Linked DNA regions of Homo sapiens: region 1 is linked to region 2. The links come from fine-mapping of genetic effects on gene expression. A gene starts in region 2. The other region holds a variant in brackets. All regions are shown on one strand. Distances are between the middles of the regions. Region 1 overlaps NAA50 (N-alpha-acetyltransferase 50, NatE catalytic subunit). Region 2 holds the start of NAA50 (N-alpha-acetyltransferase 50, NatE catalytic subunit).

Region 1 (10,017 bases), 24 kb before region 2:
GAGCACAGCCTTTAGACCCACTATTTCTTTTATATCCCGAATAACTGTAAAGTGCAGTGCTTTATAACCCTCATTTAGAAAACTACTCCTTTTAGAGACTAATAAAACACAACCTAACCAAAACTACCCTGACCTTGGGAGTCAACGAAGCCCAGCATCTTCTCTGAGCAGTGATAGCCAGTCTCCTAGAGGGCCCAATGATATCCACCTCCCAGTATTCACATCCTTGTGCAGTCCCCTCCCACACTATACCAAGCTGATTCAATGGTTGGTCTGTGTGACTCATGGAATATGGCAGAAATAATGTCACCTGAGGCTACGTCATAAAAAAGTATGGTTTCTGCTCACTTTCTTATATCACCTGCTCTAGGGGAAGCCACATACCAGTTGTCCACCAGGCAACTGGTGCCCAAGGAACTGAAGCCCAAGAGCCACGTGAGCATCAGGCACTGTGTGTGATACCCACACAGTGAGGAACAGAAGCCCAAGAGCCACGTAAGCAAGACATCTTGGAAATGGCTCCTCTAGCCTTGTCAAGCTTCAAGATGGTACAGTCCTGGCTAACAGCTTGACTGCAACCTTCTGAGATCTCAAGACAGAACCACCCAGTTAAGCAGCTCCTAGATTCCTGATCCAGAACTGTGGAAGGTAATACTTGTTTGTTGTTTTAAACTACAGTAATAACTGAGACACACTAGACAAGGATCACTCATTGCTTCTTAAATGAAAAAAGCAAAAATCTAATTATAACAATTTTGACTAGAAATATTAAATACTGAATTCTGTTAAAGAAAAAATCTTAAATTCATGTTTGATAAAAAGCTTAAAAGCCAATTCCCAACTCATTGAACTACCGTACTCCTTCCTTACAAGGAAGAAAAACAAAACACCTGAATATGTTGTCTGTAGCCAATAAACATTACTAACTAGATTGCAGCCTAAAGTGTCAAGTATTTCTAATAATTACATTAAAAATACAGCAGCAAGACAGTTCCTTGGATCTTACTTTTTCCCTCTCATTGGAACTGAATTGTAGATATTGGGCACTGTACCTAGCAAGTCACAGAAGATCTGAATTAGGATGCCTTAATTACACTTGGCCTATTTTAATGATTTTAAAATTAGATCTTAAATGTGAAAGTAAATAAAAGCAGTAAGGGAAACACTACACAATGAGTATGTACGGTTGCTGGCTGCAGAATTCAACAATACAGTTTTGACATTTACAGATATCACAGATCACTACCAGAACATCACATAAGTTTATTTCAGATGTAACAGCAATGTTAAAATTGACAAGTTTAATTCTTAACTGCACCAAGTAAACTTAGCCATTTAAGTATTTTTTTAAGTTATTCCCTCCAAAAAACTGAGGGAGCTTTTCTTTTCCACCACCACACCATGGTTTCCCAATAGTTCTCTTTTTGGAGGACTTTTCAATTGATGAGTAAACTGCTTTAGATATTTCAGAACTTCATTCCCCAAATGAAAGCTAATCTGGACAAACTATATATTGCATAGATTTCTCTACAGATTCTTTGCTTTAAAACCTAAATGCAACTAACATAGTGTAATTTTAACCTATTTGCCCCACAGTAAAAACTATCTGTCCTGAAAAATATGATGGATATATCCTGTGATTTTCCAGTTAACAGAATTGTTCTACTTCAAAGATAATTATTATCATATATCAAAATAACCAGCTCAACATAGGACATTACTTCAGTCTTTACTGACTCATAGGCATATGAACTTGTGCCCAGCTTTTTACCTCTTCCACATTCTCCTCCTCCTCCATAAGTGGATGGAATTATTTAACTAAGTTTGATGTAGGACAATTAACCCTTTACAAACATTTACAATTCAGGTTAAGTCACTGACTACCGTGGAAAAAGAAACTCTATATATAATGATAGGGAGCCTACACACTCAATTCAAAATTTAATATTTTTTCCTCCTTAAATAACATGTACTTGTCATGAGGCAGCTATTAGGTTTTCAATAACCACATTTAGGGATACATTCATAGGACTGATTAGATAGTCCAGGTGAAATGGTTATAGAAATAGAGGCAGTGTCATCTCAGAAAACCATTTATATATCAAAGTCTATTTTGATATCTGGGAAGTTTACAAAAAGGCTGCTGCATTCTTCAAACTACTTATGCCTTCTGTAACTCAAGCACTCTTCTCTTGCCAAGAGCAAGCTGAAGCTTATTCATGAAGATAAAGGTGCTTAACGCTAAACTTTTCTTCTAAGCTTAGATTTGGATTGTTTAAGAAACGAATACCCCCAAAAAACCAGCAAGGTCTTTCTACATTTTTACCATCTTAAGATTAGAACCCTATAAACTCATTCATCAACTGTCTTCTTTTTCTGTATTATTCTTGGCACTCAAGATTGTTGAAGTCTACTGCACTTTGTACTTTCACATTCTCAAATAAAAACTTAAGGTTATAAAGTGTGCATAAACATTTTATAAAATAATTTTGTCATTTAACATATTTGGAAATGAGACTTTATACCGCAATTTTACATAAGAGGATAAATATGAATGAAACTTCCTTTTAAAGTCAAATGACAGAAAGCTCAAGCCCTGTGCATTATTTTAAAGTCTGAGAACATTTCTAAATAGTGGAGATGGGACTACAAAAGGAAAACATGAATATTTCAGATGTCTCCCATCTTACAAAGTTATCAATCTGTCAAAGCCACTCCGTGTGTGCCGGAAAATGATCTGGCATAAACCAGTCCTCTCAGTGGAGGAGGTCACAGTGACATTTGTATTATTAACATTTTACACTTCTATTTTTCCAAGAATAGAAGCAATATGTTTAATAATTACCCCTGCCTCAAATCCTTAAACTCAATATCACAGGCACTGAGTATAAGCAAATCTGGGATGTCCTCCAACAGATGTGCAATAGCACAGCTATGTTATTCTCAAAAATACTATTTTTTCCTATAAAATCAAATGCTCAGTGGCCACACTTTTAACAGCTGGCATTAGATGACAGTAATTGAATTTTTTGTGTCACAGCCCATCTAAGCTTCCTTTTAGGTATTTTTTAGTATGTCCAAGAGAAAACACCTGCTTCAGGTTTATTTAGGGGTAGTGACCTATAAGGACATCAACTCAATTTTTAAGGTTAGACTATTGTTGGGTTTACTGAAGAAAAAGGAACGGGAAAAAATTAAATCACAACACACCTCTTTAGGTCAGTTAAAGGCCATATCTCTAGCTGGGATATTAAAAAAAATTAATCTCACCAGCCCAAATTCTAAAAGTTAATGCCACTAGTAACAATCAACAGCAGGAAAAACAAACCTGCTAACAACCAGCCCACTCATTAGCAAAAAAGCAGTTTAACTCAAATACTTAGACCAAAGTATAACACTAAACCAAACTGCCCCACCCACCAGCAAGAAGAGAAGATATAATTACTTAAAAATCAACATAAGCTTAGTATTTCTTACAAGGATAACAATGTTCCAACTCCCGAGAGAGTGCTCAGAAGGACTAAAGGTGGAGTGAAGGCAATGTCTAGGGATTAGTATCCCAAAGTGTTTAAAAACCCAAAGTACCACAAACACACTCAACTTGTCTATGAATTAGAGAACAAGATACTGCTGCTGCTTCTTTTTGTCTTTTGAAATATACAATGTTTTGTAGGCTCTGCCCTTCAATGTGAAAGCAGGACATTAAATTTGAAATTATTTGACAATTAAATGTTTAGGACCATCTAACTTCAACTGCAAAACTAAACAGATCTACCTTGTCCTTCCTTCAAACCACCTCACAAAAATAAGAGAAAACAATTCAAACATGATTATTTTTTTAAAGTCCTTGAAAGTATTAAAACTCTCAGAGAAAAGGAAAGGAAGAAAGAAAAACAAGAACAAGGAGGGAGAAAAGCTTTAAAAGAAAAGTGTTGGGGTGGGGGAGGAATCAATGGGCCTCTCTTTTATTTGGCGACAAGCAAGTGCAAGAAAGTTCATTTGTAATTTGTTCAGTTGTCTGTCTTTTGCACATCTGCATTCTGACCAGAAGGAACTTTGAGGTTTTTCTGCAGCACATGAGCATCTGCGGGCTCTATCCTCTTATAGTAGTTCTTCTTTGTCTCAATAATCTCAAAGCCAAACTTCCTGTAGAAGTCAATTGCCGACTCATTGCTGATCTGGACATGCCTGAGATATAAGAGAGTATCAGAAAAAAAATTAAAATTAAGGTTTCATCAAGTTTTAAGCATTCTCCACAGATAGCTCCAAACATCTGTTACATTCTCTTTACAACTACCAGTAATCAACAAGGGTTAGGCATGCTTACCTAAAACCTTTTGATGACAATTTTACACTTTTAATCTAATTTTTACATTTGTAAGACAGCTGGCTGAGATTAGAAGGCTCAGTGTTTATTCTTGTAGTCAACAAAGGGAAAAGTACCACAGCTATCAAAATTTTTTCACTGTAAGAGGATAAATTATTAAAAGGCCCTATTAACACACAGAAAAAAAATGATGAAAAATAAAAAACTAGGGTCTCAAAGCTTGAAGATATATCTTCCTTCTGATTGATAAAATACATGGTATGTTTTAAAAATTAAAAACGCAAGCTTTCTCAATTACTCCCAAAATAACACTGTATAATTCAATCTCTCACATGGCCAAACTAAATTATGAACATCCATGACTGTGATCTTAGTCATAACTCTTTATCTACAGCCTCTTGAGATTCAAGTACAATCTCAGCTAGGTAATCTCTGATTTTGATTATTAAACTCTACTACAAATGATCTACTACAATGTTCAAAGCTATCAACATAGCCTTGAACAAAACACACAAGGTTTTGCATGAGAAAAGTAGTATTAATAGTCTTGAATTCTGAAGGCCTGAGTTTTAATCCTGATTTCATCCCTGTGACTTTGGTGCTCTCATCCTAATATAATAAAGCAATGTGTTCTATCTCAGGTTCCTAATCTACTATTATTAATAAAACAAAACTAAACAAAACTAACAACTACTCGAATACTTTGTAACAACTACTTCCACAGTGTTTCCAAAGGCACAATAAGTGACCAGATTTTAAAGTTTCTAGTAAAGATTTCTCCTGCCAATTAAACCCCTTTGATAAGAACATTAAATATTATTTTACTTACAGATAAATGTTGTCAAAAGTACCATCTTTTTCACAGATGTTTAAGACATGATTTAACATTTTAGTTCCTGTTAATAAAATAAATAACAAACACGTGACTTCATAAATCAACCTTTAAATTATGTATCTATCCACTTGCCATCTGAACTACTTATTGAGTCCTAAAAGAATTTATGAGGTATACACTAGATATCCTTATTTTCCAAAGTTGTGTTCTCTCTCTACAATAGCTACGTATGTTTAAAACTGTTAGCAGAAGACTAACCTTTTTAAACAAGCACTTCCGGGTAGAAGAAAAACAGAAAAAGCAGAAGGGGACGTAAACAGCAAATCTATGTAGGGCTTCCAATAGAATTATGTTAATAAACACTAGTTATTTTTCACCATATTTTACATAATTCAGTAACCCTTTCTCAGTATTCCTTAAAAAGACCCAAATTAACTTACTAGGTCAGACACATTAACAAATAATATGTTTATGCTTCTCTGAAGAAGTAAAAAAACCACAATTTTTTACCTATTCCTAGCCTTCGGTAAGGTGCCAGACATCC[T/C]AGTGTCATGATGTAAAGTCTCTTCTGATTCTGTGAATGATCCACCCTACAGCATACTGCACCTACAGCAATATCATTGAAATAGGCTGCCAAGGAAAACATAAAGATATAATGTTGAACAGACAGAATAACACATTTAATCTTTTTCCCTTTTAAAGGACTACACTGTTCCTATCAACATTAAATTTCATCAACTATTTCATGAATATCAATGATCTCAAAGCTCTTATGCCATCTTAGGAAGTTTAAGCCTCCTCTAGAGTATAGCTTAAAGTGAAAACACACAGGTATACACTAAGAACACTAAGCATTTCTTTTTAAAATTCAACTGTTTTATTCAACTGATTTCTCTGAGATTTTTCTCACAACCTAGACCACTCCCATTTCCTCACTTATAAAATAAACAAACTAAATTAGTTAACTTCTTCTGCTCTATAAAAAACTAGGGTTCAAGAACAAAAAGAAAGAAAAGAAGGGAGGACAAAAAAAAAACTATATTATACCAAGTTTTGCTAGCTCGCCAACCTCCAGCACATCCTTGTAGAACTTGTCATTGTAGCTGACTGGAAAGATGACCTGATTCAATCTTTTCAACTGTTTAATATTGTGTGGTGTCACATCTCCCAGCTCGATCCGGCTACTGGAACAAATCAAAATGTACTCAATAAAACATAATTAGCCCCATTTGTTAATATGAACATATGAAAGGGGTACCAAGTCTTTTTTACATGATTGATAAATCCAACTCTTTCAGAGTTGATTTATAAGCAAATTATCATTTATAAGCAAATTTTGACAGTCATTCAATACAAATTCTACTCATAGCTTTCATATAATTACATACATTCAGGGACAAATATGGTACACAACGACTACTACAAAGGCCAGAATAACATTCTGCAAGTGTCAAAATTTTCCTTGTAGTTCATAGTTCAGAAAAATTTAGATACACCTATTTCTGGTAAAATTACAGTTCCTTTGCCCAAGTATCTTATTACTTCTAGTAATTTATTCTAAGAAAACAATGGAGGTATGCAATACCATGCACATTCTATTCATGAAAACCGTGGTCTATGAACTACCTACATCAGAGTCACAGAGGTGATATGCAAAATTCACATTCCTGGATACACATACCCCATTTTCAGAACCAGAGTTGCTGGAAACGAAACAAAGGAATCCACCATCTTGAAAATCACCCCAGGATGAAAACTATCCATTAAGAAAGCAACAGGAGTGATATGGTTTGGCTGTGTCCCCATCCAAATTTCATCTTGTAGTTCCCATAATTCCCATGTTGTGAGAGGGACCCGGCGAATCATGGGGGCGGTTGCCCTCATGCTGTTCTCGTGATAGTGAGTTCTCACAAGATCTGATGGTTTTATAAGGAGGCTTTCCTTCACTTCGCTCTCATTTCTCCTTCCTGCCACCATGTGAAGAATGATGTGTTTGCTTCCCCTTCCACCATGTTTATAGGTTTCCTGAGACCTCCCTATCCCTGCGCAACTGTGAGTCAATTAAACCTCTTTCCTTTATAAATTACCCAGTCTCGGGTATGTCTTTATTAGCAGCATGAGAAAGGACTAATAAAAGGAGCATTCCTAAGAAACCACTTGTAATCAAAACAATTGGGTCCATGGAAAAGATTAAAGCGAAAAATTTTCAGTTCCAATTTCTAACAAAGTATCAAAGGTATTCTGCCTGCAGAGCTGTAAACAAAGAATTTTTAATAGCTGAAGTGAACTTCAATACTGTTAAAGGTGGATCAAATGTGATAAGGCAAACCTGACAGCATTCTACAATTTTTTTGCTCCATCCGTATTATTTGCCCAAAAAGATGTTGTAGCATATTGTGTTTTGTAGAGAAAAAGCACATTTCAACTATATTTAACAACGGACTTTTGTTAACATATACAAAAACATGCTTGAAAGGATTTTAATTTGTAGTAGAAATTGTAATTTTAAAAACTGTATTTTGAAATGTTAAAATTTAGATTAAAATGCAAAAAAACAAAAACAGAAACAAAAAAAAACAGCTGGGCATGAAGGCCTGTAATCCCAGCACTTTGGGAGACCGGGGTGAGAGGATCCTTTGAGCCCTGGAGTTCAAGACCAACCTGGGCATATAGCAAAACTTTGTAAGAAATTTTTTTAAAAAAACTTAACCAGGTGTGGTGGCGTGCACCTATGGTCCCAGCTACTTAGAAGGCTGAAGTGAGAGGACTGCTTGAGCCTGGAAGGTCGAGGCTGCAGTAAGCTATGATTGTGTACCATTGCATTCCAGCCTGGGTGACAGACTGTCTCAAAAACAAAACAAAAAACAGCAATAATTACAGATAAAAAAAGAAATTTCTAAATTTGATTTATCTGGAGAGGAATATGATGTAATATTTTATCTTATAGTACAAAGTTCTCTAAGATGTATTACTCTATAATGCCCAGTTTGGAGAACATTCTACTTGGTAAGGAGTTAGAGGCAAAAACAAGAGACTTTTACCCCCTATTTAAGTAGTCTGTATGAAGAACACAAAAGACAGCATAAAGCATCGTTTCTGTCATACTTAGCAGTTTTGAAAGGCTTAGCTCATTTGGAACTTTATCCTTCCTGCCTTGATTATTTTTTATACCACTAATCTGTATTATTTGTTGCAACCAATGATCTTTTCATGTCTTGTATGTCTTCCTAAAATCTGAACATAGTTTCTTAGCAACCACACAGATTAAATAAACAAACATGTTAGTAAAAGGGTAAGAGATTTATATATTTAAAAAACCCCTCAGCACCATAGGAAGTTTAAAAAAGTAAAAATAAAAAAATAGACATTTTCTTGTTATAGTCTCTTCCAACTTCTAGTCACTTAAGTATAGTCTTTTCTCATCCCAAGTATTTGACAACTATAATGAATTCCCTGTATGAAATTCATGTTTTCTTTAAGTAGATTACATCTCATTCACAGAACTCCCCCTCTTCATAACACTTTTCTGACTAAAATCTACTGGGCTCACTTTCCCCACTATCTACCATTCACATAAAAAAAAAAAAAAATTGGGAGGCCAAGGTGGGCAGATCATAAGGTCAAGAGTTTGAGACCAGCCTGGCCAATATGGTGAAACTCTGTCTCTACTAAAAATACAAAAATTAGCCCGGTGTGGTGGCACGTGCCTGTAGTCACAGCTACCCGGGAGGCTGAGGCAGAAGAATCACTGGAACCCAGGAGGCAGAGGTTGCAGTGAGCCAAGATCGCACCACTGTACTCCAGCCTGGGCGAGAGAGCAAGACTCCGCCTCAAAAAAAAAAAAAAGAAAGAAAGAAAGAAAAATCTGTGGATACTGTTATCCTGTAAACTATAGAATCCTTTATTTTTCTTTTTTTGAGACAGGGTTGCTCTGTTGCCCAGGCATAATTACAGGTCACAGCAGCCTCCGCTTCTCAGGCTCAAGTGATCTTCCCACCTCAGCCTAACGAGTAGCTGAGGAAGGCACATGCCACCACGCCCAGCTGATTTTTGAATTTTTTGTAGAGACAGGGTTTCACCATGTTGCCCAGGCTGGTCTACAGTTCCTGAGCTCAAGTGATCCGCCCACCTTGGCCTACCAAAGTGCTGGGCCTACAGGCGTGAGCCACTGTGCCTGGCCAAAATATAGGATCCTTTAAAAATGCAGTAGCTGACAGGGATCACATCTTACCTACACTGTCTCCTGTTTAACTTACCATAGTGCCACAAGTTGGGTGTAGTAATTTTTTTATATACAGTTTGTATTAATTTAGAGCATCTCATTTAAAAAAAAGTCTTAGTATTTAAAAAGTGATTTAAAATTACATTATGAAGTTGAAGTATCAACAATAATAGTAACTTAAGAACCTACAAAGTCAAGCTTCTAAAGTATAAATGAAAGAACTTGAGGTTTTTAAAACTTTAGGAATCATTTGTAGGTAGTAACTAGGCTTCAAGCATACTTACAGTTTTCAAAGAATAATACCAGGTATTTCTTGACTTCATACAAGAAGAAAAAGTGGTTATAGTGCACTGTGCTACAATGAGTCTAATAAAAGTTAACTACTAAAAAAAGTTTCCATTAGGGTGGCCAGATAAAGCCTAAATAGAGAAAACAATATTGAACCATTAGGAAATAGGCAGCTTAATCTTCCCCTAACTAATTAAAAAAATACATGCCTTTTTTTTTTTTAAAGCACACCATAGAAATGACGTAGAAAGGGAAAATATCCTGCAATAATATGGCCAGAAATAAGTTTGCTGATAGTCTTCCAATATTTTTCTATGCGCGTTATATATATGTATATACACGCTT
Region 2 (10,017 bases):
TTGATTATTCTTTGTTTAGAGCTTTCCTAAGAGTTGTCTGCAATTTCAGGAAGAAATTACACCACTAATGGCAACACAACATGAGTCAACAATGCACACAACTGTATAGGCAGCAGACATACTTTCTAAATTACACGATGATTCTATTTACAGATAGATGCAAACACTTGATCTTATGCTTTATGGCATAGTTGTGCCACATCATTAAATACTGAAATAAATTTTATTATAAATTACTTCCCTTTTATTTTTCTTTTATATTAGAGAGAACAGTACATTGATTTTTTAAAAAAACTTATGGTGTAAGGTTATATTTTATATGAATTCATCTCAACACAGCAAGGGCACATTACAAAGTATTTGTTAAAATTCACTATCTCAATCAACAAACCACAAATTGTTTCACAGAAGGAAGAAGTATAAACTGTAGGTTTATAAAAGGTGTCAAATGCTACGTCAGCCTGACTAGCTTTTGGTTTTGCTGAAAAACAAAACAGCAATAAACCTTTAAAAAAAGTTTTGTTTTGTTTTGTTTTTTAAGACCAGTTTTCGCTCTGTTGCCCAGGCTGAAATATAGTGACAAGATCATGGCTCTCTGCAGCCTTGAACTCCTGGGCTCAAGTGATCCTCCTGCCTCAGCCTCCCAAGTAGCTGGAACTACAGACTTGCACCAGCATGCCTGGCTTTTTTTTTTTTTTTTTTGAGACAGAGTCTCACTCTGTCGCCCAGGCAGGAATGCAGTGGCACGATCTCAGCTCACTACAACCTCCACCTGCCAGGTTCAGGTGATTCTCCTGGCTGCTTTATTGTTTGTAGAGACAAGGTCTCACTATGCTGAGATGCAAAAAGCATTCCTTTTGCCCCTTCCCAGTCCATATGCTGTCAGAGGTAACCACTGTTCGGAGTTTTTAAAGTTTTGTTTCTGACTGCAGAATCTTACATTTTAATTTTATTTGGTAAAATGGCTCCCTTTACTATTCCAATTAGTAGTCAACATTGTTCCATATTTATATTACTGCTACCTACTTTCCCATCTTAGTCACGTATTCACATTTTGTTAAAGACATTTTTTATTAGAACTAATTTGCACCTCTTTACTACAATTGAAGGCTAAATGATTTGGTTTTATTATACTTTCCATTACACTGCCTAATTACATTGCCACCTCAGTCATGGTTATCTGTGGCATACCTTCTTGCTTGAAATCGCCTTCCCTAGAGAAGAACAGATAAAAATATCACCCACAAATTCAAACTACAATGTCCCTGGTTCATAAAAACAGCCAACCTCAAAAGTAAGCAACATTTCCTAGTATATCTCAAACTTCTACATGTGCATATAAATTACATTCAGTAGTTAATAACCGGAAATTTATCTTCTATGGAGGAAAGACATGCCAATACAATGGAAAGTCCTACTGCTACTACTAATAAAAATACTCATGGTAAAAATATGAAGAAAAACCAGCTAAGTTTTAAGTTTCAATATGATAGGCAACATAGGCAACAGTGTACAATTTTAAATATTTGACTGGCTTCGTGTTGGGACTTCCGCAGTTTCCAATTTTAGATATTTCAATTTACTGTTTACTTACCTCAATATACAATAGAATACTTAGCAAATAAAATTTCATACAAAAGCCACATAACCAGGACCACTGTTTCGTTTTTACAGGCCATTCCAAATTAAGAGTCAGGACTTTAAAATCGACCACACTGTGCACTGTGGTACAAGTTTTGGAACTCAAGGCGCTTAACTTATTTTAAACCTATACTGTTGTAGGTTCAGTATCCGAACAAGCACAAGTAAGATTCACACAACTCATTTGTTGAGTGTCTTAAATACAGACTTAGAAGCAAAAAAAATTAAAAAGTTTCATCTCATCTGGGAGTTAGTTCATTTGTTAAGTTAAAGGGATTATTCCTGTGAAATCATCTTAAAGGTTTACAGTAAAGAACACAATTCTAAGCTCCCAATCATAAGAAGTAATAGGAACTTCACTGGCATAGTTACTGGCATAAAGGTACAGATTCAATAGTTGTAAGTTTCCTCTAAATTCGGCCAGTTATTTCTAGGGATCTGCCTTCATCAGGTTACATGTAAATACCCATTTTAAACAGAGATAATTGCTCCATGAATATATTAATTCAAGGTAGATTGTGAATAATATGACTGTTCAGCTTCATTTCTATCGCCAAGTTATGTATCAGAAAGAACATCACAGCCTATGGAGACTGAACTAGATTGAAGATTTTGGATCTAAACATACAGAATAATTTCCTGGCAACCCCTTCGTAAATCCATGGCAATTTCAACACTGGGAACTCTTCAGCCTCATTTTTCTTACTTAACAGAACATGACAAACAAGTACTGAGTGCCTGACAATGAGTACAAAAATGAGTAAGAGTCAGCAACCATGTTCAAGAAGTGCAGTATATGCCGCGTTCAGTGGCTCACACCTGTAATCCCAGCACTTTGGGAGGCAGAGGTGGGTGGATCGCTTGAGCTCAGGAGTTTGAGACCAGCCTGGCCAACATAGTCAGACCCCCGTCTCTACAAAATATACAAAAAATTAGCAAGGCGTGGTGGTGCGCGCCTGAGGTCCCACCGACTCGGAAGGCTGAGGCGGGAGGATTGCTTGAGCTGGGGAGGCAAAGGTTGCAGTGGGCCGAGATAGCGCCACTGCACTCCAGCCTGGGCAACAGAGCCAGACCCTGCCTCATTAAAAAAAAAAAAATGAAAAGAACAAAACAAAAGGAGTGCAGTATAGCAGAAAAACAACATTCTCCAAATATGTTGGATTGTATCTGAAATAGCCAAACTTCCAAGATCATGATTCAAGTGGAGCAAATACTTCCTATACCCGTCAATTATATTTCCCTAACTGGAACTCTTTACAACTTGATGTGAAACAATGCAGGTACTGTGAATAGTTCATGGTTCTTAAACTTTAAAGATTATTAGTACAAAACATACAATTCAACATTAGAATAAATATCCAGTATTTAAAGGAAAATTAAAGTAAGGAAACATGTTACAGACCTAAGACCAAATTAAACTTTCTTGGAATCTCTTCAGGAACCTCAAATACCGATACACAGAGGTAATATTTAGGTCCTTGTTTGGGGCAGTATGAGATTACGTTGAAAGTGACTTTTATTTCATCCTCAAAAGTGCTATTGAATAGTTGGAATGACTTCGTTAACTTAAAACATAGTTACGACTTCTTAATCGACTTACAACAACAAACTATGGCATCGCAGAGAGCTTTTTAACGTTTATGAGCTTCATCTCTTTGAGGGTAAAGACAAGCTCCAAAACGGCTTGAGACAATGCTTCGGAAAAATGTTACGTAATTAATACATTAAAACTATACAACTTAATGGTAAGGAGACATTTCATAAAAACTTAACCAGTCGATCCAAAATAATTCCTAATTTTACGTAAGAGGCAAACGGTGAAAGACCGAACATTAACTTTGCCAATCACCTGAAAGGAGCAGCGTGGTAGAACTACCCAGGACCGCCTCAGCACTCAGGGGCAATAGTGAACTACTGAAGCAACAGCTCCACCTACTGATCCACCCTATACTTCCTTAAATATGTTGGCACCCCAAGTCTACAGTGATCGCGCTCTCTCCCCCTCCTCCACTCGCTGTGACCCAACCCAAATCTAGTTGAGTCACTAGCTCTTAATACTCATCCCCGTGCTCTTTATTCCAATTTCTTCTTCCTCCAGAAGGTTCTGCACAGCTCCCAAGCGTGAATTAAACTGAAAGGTGTCAAACACCGCAGTTCCAGAGTTGAGTCTGGAGGTGGAAGACAACCAAACCACTCCACCTGGAGCTGCGGGCCGGCGTGGCTCAGCGGTCCGCTCCCGGGAAGGAGGCCCCGGGCGCTTCACAATAGCCTTTCCATGTTGCCCCACTCGGTCGCTTCTCCCCACTCAACAACCCACACTCGTCTCCGAACCGAAACCCTGAAGCCCCCCGGGTCTTGCCTCCGCTGGCCCTTCAGCCCGCCAACAGCCCGAGCCTCGCCTCCGCCCCCTCCGGGAGCCGAGGGAACTGAGAAGCAGAGAAATCTCCCTCCGCCCGTCTTCGCCCTGAATCTCTCCTCGCCTTTGCGGCTCTCCCCCTCTACATGGGCCCGGACCCTTCTACCCCACCGGCCGGGCCCTGCCCGGCTGCCCTTCCTCACCCTTTCATCTTCCCCGCCTGCTGAGGCCGTCGTTACCACCGATATCAACGCCGTCGTAGTCGCCGCCCTTAGGTCTCCGCACCCTTAGCTCGGGCCACTCAACCCCGCAAGCCGGCCTCCTAGCCTGGGCAGGGAGCTGTGCGAGCAACGAAGGCCGCGAGAGTCGAGTGAGGGCTTGAGTCTGGTGGGGGCGGGAGTGTCTCCCGCCGCCGCGCTTGTGCCGCCGCTTCTCCACACGTGCACTCGGGTCTCTCGGCTCCCTCCCGCCGCTGCCGCCAGCCAGACCCGCTGCCGCGCTGTGACCTTTCACCCCGCCCCTCGCGCGCCGGCGCGCCGCCGCCTCACGCGCAGCCGCACTGCTCGCCTCCGCGCACCCTGCCCCCTCCACTCCGGAACCTCCATCTTTCTCCTGGACTGGGCCTTCTGGGGTCATGCTCCTCCCTCCCACCCGCTTACGACACTGCTTGTGGGGCTGGCTCGGTAGGCCCTGGCGGTAAAATCCAGATTTTTCCACCCCTCCCTCTCTTGTCCCATATCCGCAAGATAGTTTTTCTCAGCCCCGTTCTTCCCAGTTTGTGGTCTCCAGAGTGACCTTCAAACGCTGTTGCCTCCTAGTAGGGTTTTATAAAGTTAGTTCTTCTAAATGTAAAGAAATCTGTGGAAAGCTCAAGTTTAAGTTAGGTGTTTTAAAACAAACGTAGTTAACAATCGGCCAGATAGATTGGCTACCCTCCAGCACGCCTCAAGTTTTAAGATCACGTGATTGGCCCAAACCTCAGAGCCTGGAATTTTACCGGCGGACTCCAGAGGGACGGAACGCCACCGCCATTTCCTGTCCCTCGATTGTGGCGTGAACGTCACTTCCTTAGCAATGCGCTTTAACTCTTGCTGTCCACATTTTCCACATTGTACTTTATAACATACTCTTTGTGAAAATTTATCTTTTATTTCTTTAATCCAAGAAAATTAATATTCAAGGGATCCGTAAAAATTCAGGCCCCCCGAGATGTAGAGCGCTGGGATGGAGGAGGCAGGGCGGAGCTCGACGTCATGTGACTGGTTGGGCCCGCCCCCCCCCCCCCCCCCAACCTGTGCAGCTGAGGACTTCCCCTCCGTGGTGACAGCCTCTGGGTCCTCGGTCGGTACAGTCTCTGCACCTCGCGCCCCAGCAGGTGAGCGGCGACCGGTAACTGGCGAGTGGTGGGGATAGAGGGGGTGGAAGGAGGCAGAGGAAGGAGAGAAGGGAGAGTGTGAACGGCGACTTTTCTGCCTGAGGCTTCCTCCCCGCTGTCACCCTGCACCGGCAAGGAGCTCATTTCTCCTTAACCCCCGCTCCCCCAAGTGTGGTCGTTCCCGCTACTTGGGGATTCAGATGTCCACCTTTCCCAGGGTTGGAAGTGAGTGCGGCCATTATGGTTCCCTACTCAGAGCCTTTGGGGCTTCGGGTAGCAGATTGTTTCAGCCATTTCACAGGGTCTGCAGTAGACATTAGGTCCCATTCCTTAAAGCCCATTCTTTGGCAAAGGTCCTCACTGTCCTTACCCTCAGCTCAGGGCTGAGGAGCGGGGAGGTAGCAAAAACCCTGGAGGCAGAGGCGTCTCCGGTGAGACAGGCTTGGGAGGGACTGTCACTGATACGGCCCTCACTGCAGAGTCACTGTGAAGCTTCCCTCCGAATGTGCTTTCTCAGTGATTCTAAGGATTTTATCTGACATACCTGCAGGGAAGGTTCCGTAGATGTTCACGTGCTTCGGATGGGACTAGAAAAGTAAAAGAAGGGCTTTTACTTTTTCTTCTCTGCAGAGAGGACAGTTGAAGGAATACTGTCTTCAAAACAGGAGGTGTTAGTAATGCGACAGTCTCGATTGAATGAGGAGGCGTTGAAAGATGGTATTGTGGTGTTGTGGTGTGCAGGAGGCCCAGGCTGGTTTAGGGAAGAGTGAGTAGGGTTCCCTGAAACCGAAATAAGAAACTGATTGGGTTGGAAATAGTTAAACCAAATTGATTTGGCCATATGCTTAAAGGTAGAATCAAGTCGAGATGTTGCTGTCTGCACATGTTTTCTGCCGTCAATCCTTCCCTTTTTGTCATTTTCCCCTAAAATACTACTGAATTGGCACTCCCAATCTATTCCTTGATCGGCTTTGTGGTAAATTTAGGTTAAGTAGCATTTGTATCCCTCTTTAGCTTTCCCCATTTGTAAAACTCCCGGTGCCCTCTTCAGATTTTGATGAATAGTATTTTGTGAAAATACAGAAATTGTTGTCCAATTGAAAATACAGGTGTTGTCCAACCCAAGTACTCCCATTCCGTCCATAATGTATTATTACCAATGTTTTGATCCCAAACAATGTGCTTTAGGGAAGAATGTTTTTCAGTTTGTGGTTAAACTCTTTTATTTATACTGCAAACTCAGAAAATTCCATGCTGCTTTTCAATTGAAGGTCTTACGAATATTACAAATTTGATTTTTAAAATTTAAATTACACCTTTCTTAATATGAAAAATTATATGCTCAGTTAAATCTTGTAGTTTTCTAACTAAGGTAATTAAAGAAGACTGCTGGAAAATGAGGAAGATGGAATCATCTTTGGTGGATGTGACTGATTTATTTTTGTTTTTCTGTGTCTTCCAAATTCTATACAATAAACGGTCTTATTTTGTTAAGGAGAATAAAAAGTTAAAATTCTACAATAGCAGCAGTTTAACAAAGTATTTTTATAGTAAGTGCAAAATACATAACCTAGCTTATTGATGCTCCTTAGTAGAAAACATAACCTCGGAGATGTTGCTTTCCCCAAGTAATGAAGATTACTACTATCTCTTGTGGATTTACCATTTTAGCATTTCGTACTTACGACCCATACTGGACAATAGACTAATGTATTGATATATTTATGTCATCATGCCTGCTGTAGATATATATATGTAGTTTTATCCATTAATTTTCTCCATAATAAGGTTCCTTGATCTCTAGAGGAGAGGGGAAGAAAAAAAGGAAGTGTTACTTCAGTGACCAGGTGACATTGCACCACGTAAGGAGAATTCCTTATGTGGTCTGGAAGTCCTAACTAGTCCTGTCTGGCTGAGACCAAAATGTGAAAGAGAAAACCAGCTAGAAGCATTGACTACTAGAGGGGAAAATGTCAGTATGAAAGTGGTTGGATGAGTCTGCAGTTTTACTTCACAATTCCCCCAGTTTTAGGGAACTCGTGAAAGCAATAACTTAGACCACTGATGAAATGTAGATTAGTAGTGGGAATTGGTGATTACATTGCTAGTAAGGTTAAATGTGAAAAAAAGCTTTGACATTATACACAGATCACACACACACACACACACACACACACACACACACACACACACGATTGGAAGCCTGGAAAACATTTCTGAGACTAGCCTTATCAGTTTATGAGTGTTACATGTAGAAATCTTAACATTTATTAGGGAATTGTGCTATAGTCCACTATTAAATAAAGCATAAGGGTTTGGTTTTATTTTAGGGCCCTTGGCACTTCTGGTTTTCTTTTCCTGAGTTCTTGTTTTCAGTGCCTTTATAGATTTTTGCCACCACTAAGAATGCTTTCTTCCCCATGGGCAGAGGTAGCCACTCAGTCCTATAGACTACTACTAATCATCATCATCATCTTTTCTATTCTTCTACTTGCACTTCTAGCATTGTATTTAATTCCTGTTCCCTGGGCTCTTCCTCAGCAAATCATAAAGCTCTCAGGACTGTGAACTATAATACTATTGTGTCTTCAGCACCAGAATACTGAAGTACCTGATAGGTACTCAATAAATTATTTATTGAATGAATGTTGGGCAATTAGACAAAGAAATTAAACCACTTTAATTTTTGCAGATCATAGCTCTTCCTAAAGTTGTGCACTAAATGTTAGCTTTTAAATATAAACTGGTAATAACCTTCCAAATTCATGGTCAATACAATAGATAAAAACCTCAGATGGACTTTATTAATGCTGAGACCAACTTATTTTCACAGCATGTTTGTTTACTAATAAGTATGGTTATCATCAAAATATGGGAGAGAAGGGAAGAGGAATGAATCGTACTAAATGAAAAAGTGGCTCTGCGTGATCTATAAGTGGACTAGCACTAGACTAAAAGTCAGAGGATCTTCATTCAGCTCTGCCACTTTAGTTATATGTCCTTTTACGTAATGCTGGGGAGGGGTTCAGGTTTGATACTTAGGAACCTTCCTATGACATAAACCCTAGGTAATCTATGTGAAAATATCTTAAAAACTAAGTGGTGTCTGTAATCCCAGTGCTTTGGGAGGCCAAGGCGGGCAGATCACAACGTCAGGAGATCGAGACCATCCTGGCTAACACGGTGAAACCCTGTCTTTACTTAAAAAAATTAAAAAAATTAGCCAGGCATGGCGGCACGCGCCTGTAGTGCCAGCTACTCAGGAGGCTGAGGCAGGAGAATCACTTGAACCCGACAGGTGGAGGTTGCAGTGAGCCAAGATCACACCACTGCGCTCCAGCCTGGGCAACAGAGTGAGACTCCATCTCAAAAAAAACAAAAACAAAAACAAAAAAAACTAAGTGGTGTGTAAAATGGTAAAGCAGTGTAGCTCAGACTTTACATGAATTGATTTCCCAGTCATAGAGACCTAGTTGAAGTTCTGGCCCTACCACTTAATAACTGTGTGACTTTGGACAGTGTACTTAAGTAAGGTTAAGTTTTCTCACGTTTAAATCTATAGATGGTGCTATTAAGTTAGATCATGAATGTAAAATGCCTAGAACATATTTTGTAAAAAAAATTTTTAATTAATTTTACTGATAACTACTTTGATTTTATATACTGAATTTCTAAAGACTTAAGACAACCCACAGAATTGACTGATGTCCCTGTGAGCAGCAGGTTTGGGGCATGAAGAAGAGAGTAGAATTTGAAAAGAAGCTATTACCCAAAAAATGGGGGAACAAGAAAAGTGTACTTGTAGCAAAGATTCTAAAACAGATTTATTAATTTTATCTGAAAAATATCAAGATAAAGTCCCTTATTTGGGCAACTGCAGTGTCTTAATATTTTCTATATAAAGATTTTCCAAAGCTTGTAATCATTAATGTATGGAATAAATTTAAGGAGGCAGTTCTTCAATTTTGAAGTTTTTATTCCTGCAATGGATTATAGAAGTATATTAAAATTGTACAGATTGTAGAGCAGGGACTTTTGAGTTAATGCTTATAAGCTTAAAAATTTTGTCTTTTTAAAAAAATTAAGTGTTTTTATATCTTATTTTTATCCTTATATGAAATAGACAAAGAAATGTAGAGAACATAATGGAGACATAAACTAGAGTAAAATTCTTCCCTTCTTAAATTCATGATTCACAAGGGTTAGTAGTTTTGCAATGGAAAATATCAGCAAATTAAACAGTAAGTATAGCTATCATGAGTTTATGAATCACTTTATTCCTGAAAAAAAAAATTACTCATTTGTCTTAAGGAAAGATTTTATTAAGTTTATTGACTTTTCCTTAATGTTGATTGTCTATTATAACAAATGGATTTATTGATTTAGGAATGAATTTATTCTTTATACTAAGTAACTTTATTTTAAATAAATGAAATGTGAGCAATAAAAATGTTTTCCATATAATTTCTGAAGAGAATATTAGTTTTGCTATTCTCTTTTTTCCCTATGGTGAAATGATAGCGACTTTGGTTTTTATAAGTGTATTCATTTATATTTAGTATATACATATTATGTATATACTATATATAGAGTAAATATTTGTAGTATATAAAGTACGCAATGTGTGTGTATGTATATATAAAGA

The links.
Region 1: its variant is fine-mapped to the expression of NAA50 in whole blood (TOPMed, PIP above 0.99).

What each region holds. Positions count from the first base shown.
Region 1 is chr3:113,717,750-113,727,766 of GRCh38, forward strand. NAA50 (N-alpha-acetyltransferase 50, NatE catalytic subunit) reads right to left here. Exons shown (of 5, transcript NM_025146.4): 2 at 6,210-6,346; 3 at 5,673-5,792; 4 at 5,157-5,223; 5 at 1-4,188. The coding sequence ends at 4,011. Among named protein-coding and RNA genes, the nearest start is that of NAA50, 23 kb to the right of the region's middle. The variant T/C (reference allele first, on the strand shown) is at 5,707.
Region 2 is chr3:113,741,742-113,751,758 of GRCh38, forward strand. It overlaps NAA50 (N-alpha-acetyltransferase 50, NatE catalytic subunit), which reads right to left and starts at 4,508. Exons shown (of 5, transcript NM_025146.4): 1 at 4,201-4,508. The coding sequence starts at 4,208. It overlaps ATP6V1A (ATPase H+ transporting V1 subunit A), which reads left to right and starts at 5,294. Exons shown (of 15, transcript NM_001690.4): 1 at 5,294-5,372. RefSeq lists enhancers at 3,352-4,088, 3,692-3,841, 4,089-4,824, 4,825-5,560, 4,882-5,251 and a silencer at 4,412-4,531.